2 separate regions of the Homo sapiens genome follow, and region 2 is linked to region 1. Evidence: fine-mapped QTL for protein levels in blood plasma. A gene starts in region 1. The other region holds a variant in brackets. All regions are shown on one strand. Distances are between the middles of the regions.

What was found. A credible set is the group of variants that fine-mapping cannot tell apart. PIP is the posterior inclusion probability: the model's chance that the variant is causal. Protein levels are from antibody-based Olink assays in UK Biobank. Linkage for the fine-mapping came from a reference panel and not from the study's own genotypes, which makes the PIPs less certain.
Region 2: its variant is the best candidate, but not a certain one, in a credible set for the plasma level of the C4BPB protein (UK Biobank, PIP 0.55).

The regions. Positions count from the first base shown.
Region 1 is chr1:207,086,502-207,090,281 of GRCh38, reverse strand. C4BPB (complement component 4 binding protein beta) reads right to left here and starts at 1,422. Exons shown (of 7, transcript NM_001017365.3): 1 at 1,336-1,422; 2 at 693-800. The coding sequence starts at 750.
Region 2 is chr1:207,124,630-207,133,172 of GRCh38, reverse strand. C4BPA (complement component 4 binding protein alpha) reads right to left here. Exons shown (of 12, transcript NM_000715.4): 7 at 6,278-6,460; 8 at 1,433-1,627. LOC107985251 (a long non-coding RNA gene) reads left to right here. Exons shown (of 3, transcript XR_007066838.1): 3 at 2,899-6,163. Among named protein-coding and RNA genes, the nearest start is that of C4BPA, 25 kb to the right of the region's middle. The variant G/A (reference allele first, on the strand shown) is at 4,734.

The sequences.
Region 1 (3,780 bases):
CTTGGCATATCATGTGCTGTCAGAGAACCCTTATTAGATTTCCCCATTCTCATGTCTTTTTGCTGGATTATTGATCCTGATTCCTGTGCTCTTCCCAAGTACTCTGTATTCTACTCCCAAGTAGCCGGGACTACAGGCACCCGCCACCACGCCCAGCTAATTTTTTGTATTTTCAGCAGAGACGGGGTTTCACTGTCTTAGCCAGGATGGTCTCGATCTCTTGACCTCGTGATCCGCCCACCTCGGCCTCTCAAAGTGCCGGGATTACAGGCTTGAGCCGCTGCGCCCGGCCGGAATTCCGAAGTTTTATTTTCAAAAGTATAACAGGAATTTTACTCAAATTCAACCACAAGTTGTCCACTTCTAAACAAATAGTCCCCTACACAAATAGCGATCCTGGAGTTTATAACAAGTAAGACCTCCCAGGATTTTGAAATTGGTACTCTTTTTGCTCCCAGAACAGAAAGGGAAAGTAAAAAAACAGTAACCACCCACTTCAGAGATCAGGGTTATCATTAAATGTACACTAAGCTCCTATTGAGTGCAGAGCATTAGGCCAATTTGAGATTTTTCAATAGAAGAATAAAGATATTATAAATGTAAACTTCCTTAAAGCCCTAGACAGAGTTCCTCAAAACACCGCAAAAGGACACCAAATGCCTGTAAGCTGAGTTGAAGGAAAGCATACGTACCATCTGAAGCAGAAACTCGCCACGCAACCATAAGACAGCACGCACACCAAAAAAACATCTGGTGATCAAAGTCCTCTCCCCAGGCTGGAATTCACCCAGCTCAGACACCTGGTTTGAAAAAAAATAGATCTTCTAACACTGCTTAAGACCAACCTAACCACCTCCTCTCTAGAGAAGAGGTTATATTGATTTACCCTCCCTGGAGAAAATGAAAAGAAAAAATCTTACGACAGGAAATCAGAACAGCTGTAAGGAAGCTGGTATAGGGAGGAACTGCAAAAATACAAAGGGATGGTAAAAGAGTTGCCAGGTTTAAAACTCAGTTTCAGAAATTTCCTGGTTTCTGGGAATGCAAATCCAGTTGACCAGTCTTTTTGAAACGCAGGCTTATCCTTCCCCAACAAACATGGGCCAAATGGTCTTGCCATGACCTTGACTTCTGTCAATAGTTGCCAATGTTTACAGTCCAACTTCTGTAACTCTGGCCAGCACTGGGGAAAGAGAACGGGCTGTCAATCCCTGGTTCTTGCCCAGGTAGAACACAATTTTGAATGCTACCTCATCCTCCTTTCCTGAATACCAGATATCCTAAGGCTGTAAGCAGCACTGAAGACGAAAGCTCAAGGAAGTAAACTAACCTTACCTGTCTCTGTCCCTCCAGAGTTAGGGCTTCCCAGCAAGGAACTGGTCTTAACTGACTCCAAAGCTGAGAGCTCCAAAGTCCTGCAGTGACACATTGTTCTCGCTTGCCAGGCCTGTACCCAGGCTTCCTACTTTGTGGCTCTTCCAGGGACAGGATTTGGCCTGAGTCCAGAGTTAACCAAATGAGTAAAGAGAGAGGTGAGGAGAATGCTTTGGTCTCAGGAATTAAGGCATGTAAAATTGTTTTGAGGGATCCCATATCATCTTGCTTGTGACTACTATAACCCTTGGTTGGTTCTCTGTGCTGTAATTATGAAACTGGGGAAAAATTCCTACAAAATTTCAGGTTTTAATAGAATAATAAAGCATTAAGGACACAGTAAGGTTGCAAATGTTCTTCTCTTCTCCATCCATTACTACTGTTTGTGATGATTAATCTATGTCTTTCTCCTGAAAGGAATCAGGATATGCCACCCCCAAATATTTGGCGTTAAGATTCTTTTAAGCTGAAGATATTTGAGATTCAGTGATATGGAAAGGAACAGAGATTTTGGGGGCTTTCCTTATCTGACTAAAGGCAGCAACCTTGGAGATAAGGTTGCCATAAATTCCTTTTCAGGGTAGGTCTATCCTGGAGGGGAGAGCATGAGTAAAACATATTTCAAATTCCTTCTCCAGAGAAATTTCATGGCCTTGAAGGAGACAGAAAGAACACTCGTACTTATATACACAAACATTATCACAAAACTTTCTAATTTCCTACTTTTCCCCTGAAAACCCACTTGCCTTTCCAAAAAATAATCTGTTTTCTTTTTTGTTTGAGATGGTGTCTTGGCATGATCTTGGCTCACTGCAACCTCCACCTGCCAGGTTCAGGCCATTCTTGTGCCTCAGTCTCCCGAGTAGCTGAGATTACAGGCATGCGCTACCACGCCTGGCTAATTTTTGTATTTTTAGTAGAGATGGGGTTTCACCATGTTGGCCAAACTGGTCTTGAACTCCTGACCTCAAATGATCCACCCGCCTTGGCCTCCCAAAGTGCTGGGATTATAGGCATGAGCCACCGCACCCGGCCAATAATCTGTTTTCTTGTAAGTGCCTTTCTTCTCCCCACCTTCACCTATTAAGATGATGTATAAGCCCCAATTCTAACCAACTTTTTGAATTACTTATCACTGAGTTTTCCCACATGTACTCAAGTTACATGTATAAATAGAATTTTCTCTCCTGTTAATCTGTCTTAGTCTAATTTGCAGGTCCCAGCCACTGAATACAATATGGTAGAGGAAAGGTGTTTTTTTCCTCCCCTTTATTCCCACAGGAAACTGCTAACTCCAGGACAGGGTTTGTGTCTGATTTGTATTTGTATTCCCTTCCACGGTGCTTCATATTGCAAAGCAGTTGTCTGTTAAATGAATGAAAGTAATGCAGAAATAAATGAAAAAAACTGTCATCCAGAAACTCTACCACAGCCCCCAAAATCCATATGATCACTTGCCATTTATCACATGCTGCCTTATGATTTTTTATGTCTTATCTTTTCTTAACTAATATGCAAATTCCTATAGTGTAAGCACCCTCTAAGACATGATTTTCAAAAAGTTAAAAATATGACACAAGTAAATATAAGATGAATATATATCAAAGATTTAATTCAACTCATTAATTAATGAGGAAACATTCAGATGCTACAACTGGTTCAAAGAAGAATTTGAGGAATAGGAATGCATATAGTCAGTCAGTCAAAAGCATTCTGAAGTGACCTTTCCAATAGATACAAAACTGGTTAATATCCTACAGAGTAACAAACTGTAATATTTGCAATTAGCTTTTCTACCTGGTGGAAAGTAATTAAAACAAAATGGACAAAATATATTTGCTCTACTATAACCAGGAATCATTTGCATTGTTCTCAGATAAGAGTCATTTGCATTCCTATAAATTTACTGCAAATTAACCTCTATGCTTAAAGAGTTCTAAAAGAACTTTAAATAAAGTCAGTCAGAGATCATCTCCAGAGGGCCTGCTAGAAAATGCCCAGGAATCCATTGAGCATTTACTCCAGTGATCTCTTTTTGCTAATCCTAAGCTTTGAATAATTTTTATTTACATACCCCATGTTCTACTTCTTGAGGAATGCATGTTCTTCAGTATCTTTTATAGATTTATATACAGAATGTTTGTACAATAAATTATTTTAAAAAGGAAGGAAAATCTAGTTTAGCCCTACATAAATATGGACATAAAATAGAACATGTATTACAGGAAATAATTGCAAGTAATTCTTCATCTTAATGGCTTACTTCAGATTCAGAACTATAGGACTTTAGAAACCATATCACTTATACTATTGTCTTACTAATATTTCTCCATAAAATATAAAAATACAAAAATATTCACACTAAGTGGGCTCTATAGAGACAATAAATAGCATCACAAAGTTTGG
Region 2 (8,543 bases), 41 kb before region 1:
AAATATGTAAGTCATGAGTCTAAATTCACATTTGATCAGGTTTCATAACTTGGATAAATACTACTTCACTTCTGCTTTTAAAATGGTTAAAAATATTCTTTATTAAATAATTAAATCAATAAGATCATAGGGGATCAAATAAATGTAAACAACTGGGTCCTGCTCTGTCATCCAGGCTGGAATGCAGTGGCATGATCTCGGCTCACTGCAGCTTTGGCCTCTTAGCCTCAAGTTATCCTCCTACCTCAGCGTCCTGAGTAGCTGGGATTACAGACGTGTGCCACCACATCCCGCTAATTTTTTAAATTATTTGTAGAGACAAGGGTCTCACTCTATTGCCCAGGCTGGTCTCAAACTCGTGGGCTCAAGCAATCCTCCCGCCTCAGCCTCCCAAAGTACTGGGATTATAGGTAGGAGCCACCGCACCTAGCCTAAATACAACTATAAAGGAGGTTTTTAAACATTTATAAGCAATACTTTTTGTTATTTAAGTAATGGCGGTAAGTTTTATTAAGTATATTTTTAATTCAGTCCTTTTATTAAAATCTTTTATTCTATTTCCCCAAAATGAGTCTGAATAACTGCAATTAAACTTTGTTAAGTCTTAATATGAAATAAGTAATCTTCTGACAGGTTGATCTAAACTACCACTTTTCATTATTTATGCATTTCACAGATTGTTGAAATTCTGATATGCAGCATAAAATTCCCTGTATTCTTGGCCTCAGTGTCTTCACCTCTAAAGTGGCAAGGTTCTGATAGATGGATAGAAGAAAGCATTTTCTTCCTCTCTTGTCTGTTCCACTGAGGCTCATAATATAGTATCCACTTGTCGTTCAGTCCCTCACTCATTTCCACAAATAAAAGAGGTGCGTCTCCTACCAGAGAAACTGGAGGAAGTCTCCTTTCTATCCTTACGAAGTGAGAATGCTCAGTCACGAGTCAGGATTTGTCTTCTAGAGGCAGATCAGGAAGCCCTGCCATCTCATGGTTCAAGAGACATGAGACACAAGTCACCCTGCAGCTGGTTACGCTCATGACTGTTTCACAAACTTGTCTTCTGCCAAACACCCCAAAGCCCATACTGGGGAGGTAAGGGCTATGAAGGAAGCCTGACTCTGACAATAGTTGAGCTGTATTCTCCATTCTAGTTTTACCAGTAAGAAAACTAATACATAATCTGCATAATGTTTGACTTCTGTGTCTACTTCTCATTTGATTCTGAACTGGGATAAGGAAAGGTTACAATTTCTCAGTGCCTCAAACTGTAACATGTTTATGGTCCCCTTCTGGCACTAACAGTTTACTAATCTGTTGAATTAACTTAATTCTAAACTTGTTGTGAGGGATAAAATTATATTCATTTAAGGTAGAGAATCCTAGCACATACTGGACATTTAATATACAAAAATATTAAAAAACAAAAACTCACCCTCACATCCTTGGTATGGGGTCCATCTCAAATTTTTCTGACAAATCACAGTCGTAGGCTCATCTGTAGTGGGTTTGTAGCCAGGATGACAGCGGTACCTTAACACAGTCCCAACAACATACACATCCTCTTTTGTCGGCCTAGGATATGTTTCCCAGGAAGCATGTGGAATGTCTGGTAAATTAATACAACTATCTACTCATGAAAGAAGAAGAAGAAGAACAAAAGGACGCTATTACTAGGGCTGCCACAGCAGTCAATAAGCCTGTCCTATCAAAGGGGGTCATACGTTCATTCAGCCTGGAACCAGCCTGCAAGGCCTGATGTATCAACCACACCAGAAAACACACATGGACATTCGCTCAAATGTGCACACCTCCAGAGAGGCTCTTCACTAAGGGCACTCCCAAGTGGTTTCCATGTGCTGTGCCAAGTATAATAATTTTAATTCTCATTCCTCTTCTTTACATTTCAGAGATTTTAGTTTCTGAACTGAAGCATGGCAGGAAAACTGTCACAAACAAATCTAACTATGTTTACTGATTGATTGGGGAAAATAAACAGGAGCCGTTCCCCTCATCCAGATGATACCAGGAATGACTTGGCAAGAAAAAAACCAAGCTCCAAACATTTTTTGAGCCTGGGCCTTGGATCTTGTCCTCTTCTCTCTTTCCCAATGCTACTGATTCATATGATATGAAAATATAATGCAAACATCTACCACGTTGGATGATTATTGAAATGGAATATAAAAGTTCTTTTTTAACAGCATTATTCAGATTAAAGTCACAACAAATAAATTCACCCATTTAGAATGTGCAATTCAATGGTTTTTAGTATATACAGAGTTGTGCAACCATCACCATTAACTAATTTCAGAATATTTTTATCAACCCAAGAAGAAACCTCATATTCATTATCAGTCACTCCCTATTTCCACCTCCCCCTAGGTCCTGACAACCACTAATCTATTTTTTTCTTTATGGATTTGCCTAATCTGAGCATTTTAAATAAATGGAATCACACAATACATGTACTTTTTGTGACTGGCTTATTTCAGTTAGCATAATATTTTCAAGGTTCATCCATGTTGTAGCATACATTAGTACTTTTTATTTTTCATTTTTATTGCCAAATGATATAATCTATTTTATGGATAAACCACTTTTTGTTTATTCATTATTCATTTGATGGGCATTTGGGTTGTTTGGCTATTATGAATAATGCTGCTATGAATCTTCATGTAAAATTTTTGTGTGTGGACATATGTTTTCATTTATCTTGGGTAGATACCCAGGAGGGTAATTAGAGTCATATGGTAACTCCATGGTTAAACTTCAGCAGGACTGCAAAAACTCTTTTCCAAAATGGTTGCACCAATTTACATTCCTATTAGCAGTGTATGAGAGTTCTAATTTTTCCACATCCTCACCAACATTTGTTATTGTCTATCTTTTTTATTACAGCCATTCTGCTGGATGTGAAGTGGTATCTGATTGTTACTAGAAGGCTATCCTTACAAGAAATGCTAAAGGAAATTGTTCAGACTGAAAGCAATTGACACCAGACGGTAATTTGAATCCACACAGTAAAACAATGAGCATCAGCAGAGGTCATTATGTCAGTAATTTGAACCACAGTATAATATATATTACTACTCCTTCCTTCTCTTAGCTGATTTAAACAGCAATTGCATAAAACAATATGTATATAATTGCATTATTAAGCCTATAACATACAGAAATGCAATATATTTGACAATAACATCACAAGAAAGGTAGGAGGGAACAAAGCTGTATTATAGTACAGAAATGACACCAGATGGTAACTTGAATCTACAGGAAGAAATAAAGAGCGCCAGAAATGAAGAATAAGAAGATTAACATAATAAACTCTCTAAATATATACTTGCCCTCCTTTCTTCTCTCAGCTACTATAAAAGACATGAAACATGAAATTATATAAAACAATAATTATAAAAATTTATTGTGCAGTTTGTAATATATGTAAGTGCAAAATATGTTGTTGGATTCTTGGTTGAGGTTTTTATCTTTCTGCACTTTGAATGTGTCATCTAGCTGCTTTCTAGCCTCCATTCTTTCTGATAAGGAATCAGATGTTAATCTTACTGGGGTTACATTGTACATGATGCGTTGCTCTTCTCTTGCTGCTTTCAAGATTTTCTCTTCATTCTTGGTTTTCAACATTTTGATTATAATGTCTCAAGGTCTAGACCTTTTTGCAATATCCTACTTGAGTTCAACAAGCTTCTTGGATATGTAGATTAATGTGTTGTTTTGTTCTTTTGTTTGGGTTTTTTTTTTTTTTGGTCAAATTTGTGATATTTTCAGCCATTTTTCCTTTGTATAGGTTTTTATCTCCTTTCTCTTTCTCTCATCTTTCTGGGACTCTCATTATACATATGTTGGTACACTTAATGGTGTCCCACATTTCTCTGATGCCATTTATTTTTCCTCATTCTTTTCATCTCTGTGCTTCAAATTGCATAATCTCAATTTATCTTCAAATTCACTGATTCTTTTTCCAACTCAAATCTACTGTTGAGTTCCTCTTTTGAATTTTTCATTTTACTTACTGTGTTTTTCAACTCTAGAATTTCCATTTCTTTTTAAAATAATTTCTATCTTTATCAATATTTTCTATTTGATAAAACTGTCATAATACATTTACTTAATTCTTTAAATATTGTTTCCTTTAGTTCTTGGGACATATTTATAATAGCTGCTTTGTGATTCTTTGAACTTTCCTGCTAAGTCCATTCTCTGGGCTCCCTCAAAAACAGTTTCTATTGTTGGCTTTTTCCCTTTACATGGGTCACTCTTTCCTGTTTCTTTGCACATCTGACAATTTTTTTTTTGAAAACAGAACATGTTAGATAATACATTGCAGCAACTTTGGATATTGATTCTCCCTTACCACCTTTGGGATCTGTTGTTGTTTCCTCATTTTCTTGTTTGTTTAGTGACATAATTGGACTAGTTCAGTTAAGTCTGTTTCCTTCAAAGTGTGCAACATCTAACAGCATGCCTCAGACAGCACAGACTTGGGCATGTACACAGTCTTTTTAACTGCCAGAGATAACTGTGGTTTTCTCTTTGACTGTCTCTTTCTCATTGAGACTTTGGGTGGTCTACCTCTGTTGGTATTACATACAACCATTGGCCTCCAGCAATCTTTATCTGATTGTTCTACTTTTTTCAGCAACTCCCTGGGGCATAATATGCTTCACAGTCTAATCCAATTAAAGTTCCTTGAAAGGGGCAGAGTGTTTACAGTCTTT[G/A]AAGCTTGCTCCAAATCTGCCCTGGAAGAATGTCTGTCCTATAGATCAGGAGCTGGGGGAAATTAGAAAACTCATTCTTTCCCAGGCACTGCACTAGAGTTCTTCTTATGGTGTAGGAGCTGTGAGAAGAGAAAAGGGGGAAGTAGGAACTGGCACTGCCACCCAGCTGCGCCCACCACCAAGTACACATATTCCACAGCGCAGAGCTGGGGAGAATAATAACTGCCAATATTCATAGCTGTCAACCTACCCATAATAGTTCTTCCATTCTAGGAAGCTGGGGAAGATGGGAGATGCCACTTGGCTGCTGAGCCAACTGGAATAGTTCTCGTGCAACATAGAGCCATGAAAAAGGGGGGACTGACTTCTTACCAGCTGCCCCACTTAGATCCTCCCCATATAATCGGAGTTGGGGGTGAAGGAACAGACACTGATGCATGTTTGCTGGCACCGATTCAATATTCGACTTCCACAGCATGGATCTTTGAAAAATACTGTCATGTAATTTTCACTGGCTGCCAAATCCACCCCAAATAACTTTTTTACCCCAGGGAGCTGGAGAAGATGGGAATTGCCACTTGTGGGATGAGCCCACAGAAAACATCCTCCCGCAAGGTAGAGCTGTTGCAGCCCCTAGTTCTAATGCAATGTCCTCCCACTGTTCCTATCAAGTCTCCATATTTTTGCTGAATAAATGCTTCTCGGTTTGTTGTAATCCCTTTGATCACTCTCCAGAGACTTTGAATGGTTTTCTTTGCTAATTTTGACCAGCTTGGTGGATACCTCTTCAGGAGAGAGGTTTCCCCAAACTCCTCCACCACTGCTCCAGAAATCCCCAGAAGTTCTTGACATTTCGTGAGGGCAAAACTTAGAGCACAAGGCATCAGTGGCTTCCTTCTCTTACCAGTTGTATAACCTTGAGCAAGTCTTTTAACCTCTGTGAACAGTTTCTCATCTGTAACATAAGGATAATCATAGTGCCCACAATTGTTGGGAGGATTTGTTGAGTTAATCCTTGTTATGCACCTAGTCTAGTGCCAAGTTATCATTATTACTATTGTCATTATTTTTAATAATCCACGAGTTTATAACTTCAGAGTGTTGGAATCATAACCAGTTCACACAATACTTTTGTACAAGTTATAAAAGGCATTTTTCCTCAGGACAATTTATTATTTGTCTTTCAAAGTAATTATAATAATATAATGATTTTGTTAGAATAAGACAATTTTCTATCAAATTCCATAAAATTATTGAAATAAATATACAAATCCATAGTATCTACAATGTTAACACCTCCCTTTAAGGTTGGAATGTGCACAGTCTTGTGGTATGTGGCAGTTTTGTGTGACAATATATGACCTTGCAGAGTGCACTAAAATCATTCTTCTTTCCAACAAGAAAAAAATAAAGGAAATTATTGATCTAGATGTAAATTTTTACTGTAATTCATAGTAGGCCTATGCATGCAAGTATACCCGTATTAACAGTACGGGGTACCTTTAGATGCCAAACATTGAAATTCTGTCACAGTCCATACTTACTGGGCTCACAAGCAGGAGGAGAAGGATTCCATTTGCTATCAGCATCACAATGAATTACACTGCTGCCTCTGAGAACAAAACCTTTTTGGCACTTAAACACAATAGTGTCTTTGTAATTATAGATGGGTCCAAATCCAGAGACCATTTCCCCATGTGAAACATCTGGCTTGCGACAGGTGATTTCTAAAGAATCATGAGAAAAGACAAGTGGATTTTAAAAGATAGATGGTAATAAGGATATTACTGCCACTGCTAATCCAGTTACAAGTGCAACACAAATGCCTGTTGAATGTGCATGTCAAGTAGATACAAGGGAAACATTTTAAAGTGAATACACATACACAAACGCATACATATATATCTGTATATATAATATATATATATATGTAATCCTTTCAGTACTAGTTTTTATTGGTGGAGAAGTTGAAGAAGTTATCCACAATTACCTCATAGAAAGACCAATGTAATGGAAACTCATTTTACTGAGGCTTTTAAAAGCTGAAATTATTTATATTATGTTAATGATACTTATTATATATTTTATATATTCTATAATATAGTCTTATAGAATATATAACACTATACCAATAGTATTATATATTATATATTTTTATATTTGATATAATATATATTTATATATACACATATGTATGTGTGTGTATATATATAAAATATATAATTTCAGCTTTTAAAATGAGTTTTCATTACATTGGTCCTTCTTCGAGATGACTGTGGATAGCTCCTCCAACTTCCCTACCAATAAAAATCAGTCATACATAACCCAGCAGAAACATATTTCCAAGGCCCCCAAAACTTTCAGTATAATGGCCTAATTTCCTAGATGATTTTGGTTATGGGTCCGTGGCCCATGGTAATTACATAGTGCAGAGGCAGCCCAGGGGATCAGAGACCCATGCCCCGACAAGCAGAAAACAAGCCGCCCCCTATCTCACACCCCTCACCCACATCCTGGCAGTCATCCAGTCCTGGCAATTCTGCTACTTTAATTCCTCTACAATCCCTTAACTTCTGTCCAGCCCCACTGCCATGCTACCGCTGAAGCCACCTTCAGTTTTTGGCTGGAGGGTTGCACAGGTGCTGTCTTAGTCTGTTCCTGCTGCTATAACAAAATACTTTCACTAGTTTATAAATTATGGAAATTTCTTTCTCACAGTTCTGGAGGCTGGGAAGCTCAAGATCTAGCCACCATCAGATTCAATGTCTGCTTGCTCTCCCCTTTCAAGATGGTGCCTTCTTGCTGCGTCCTCACATGGGGGAAGGGATGAAAGCTCTGTCCTCACAAGACAGAAGGGCAAAAGAGACTAGCGCTCTCCCTTCAACCTCTTTTATAAGGGCACTAATCCCATTCATGAGGGTGGATCCCTCATGACTTAATCACTTCCCCAAAAGTTCCACCTGTTAAAACGATCACATTGGGTCTTAGGTTTTATCATGAGTTTGGAGATGCACATTCAAGCCATAGCAGGTGACTGTCAGTTAAGTTTTGTCCCACTTCAGGTTGTTGTCCCACAGCCAGAGTTATCTTTCTAAAATGCAGCACATTTATTCCCCTTGTTAAAGCCTTTCAAAGTCTCCCCTCCATGATTGTTCTGAATGCCTGAGACTGAAACACAAGGCCCTTCATAACCTGGCCCCTGCCCACTTTTCTGCCCTCAGCTATTGCCGCTTTCACTTGTTGCAGATCTAACTCCAGGCATTTTGCACTGTTGGCAGTATCCTGCTCTTTTGTGCCCCTCGTCTGATTGTGTCCTGTGGTGGGTTAGTAAGCAATACTGTGTAAACTTAGTAATATAAAGTAAGATTCCTTAGACTAGCACACTAACTAACATATCTTTTGACTCAATTATCACTTGCTTTGTCCTGTTGCCCTTCTGGCACTCAGGTTTTGCTTGCCCTACAGGCATATGTGTTTCATCTTATAGGTGCAAATTATATTTTCATTTCCGCTTCTTGAACAGACCAAGGCTACATTCCCCAGTCCTCTGAGGCTACTCTCTAGTTTGAGACAAAAGGCTGTAATGGAAAGTGATATGTGGTTGCTTCCAGGCCAAAGCTCTTAGCCAGGACACAATTGGCCTTTCTCTCTTCGTCTACTGAAGAGACTGTGAAGGCACATTTTGAAATGGAGGTGCCATAAGATCAAAGCAACCTGGCTTGCTGAGCTAGTTGCTAAGCTAACACAGACTACGGCTGCCCTGGAGAGTCTCCTGGACATGGAACAAACTCAGTGTAAATGAGAATAAAC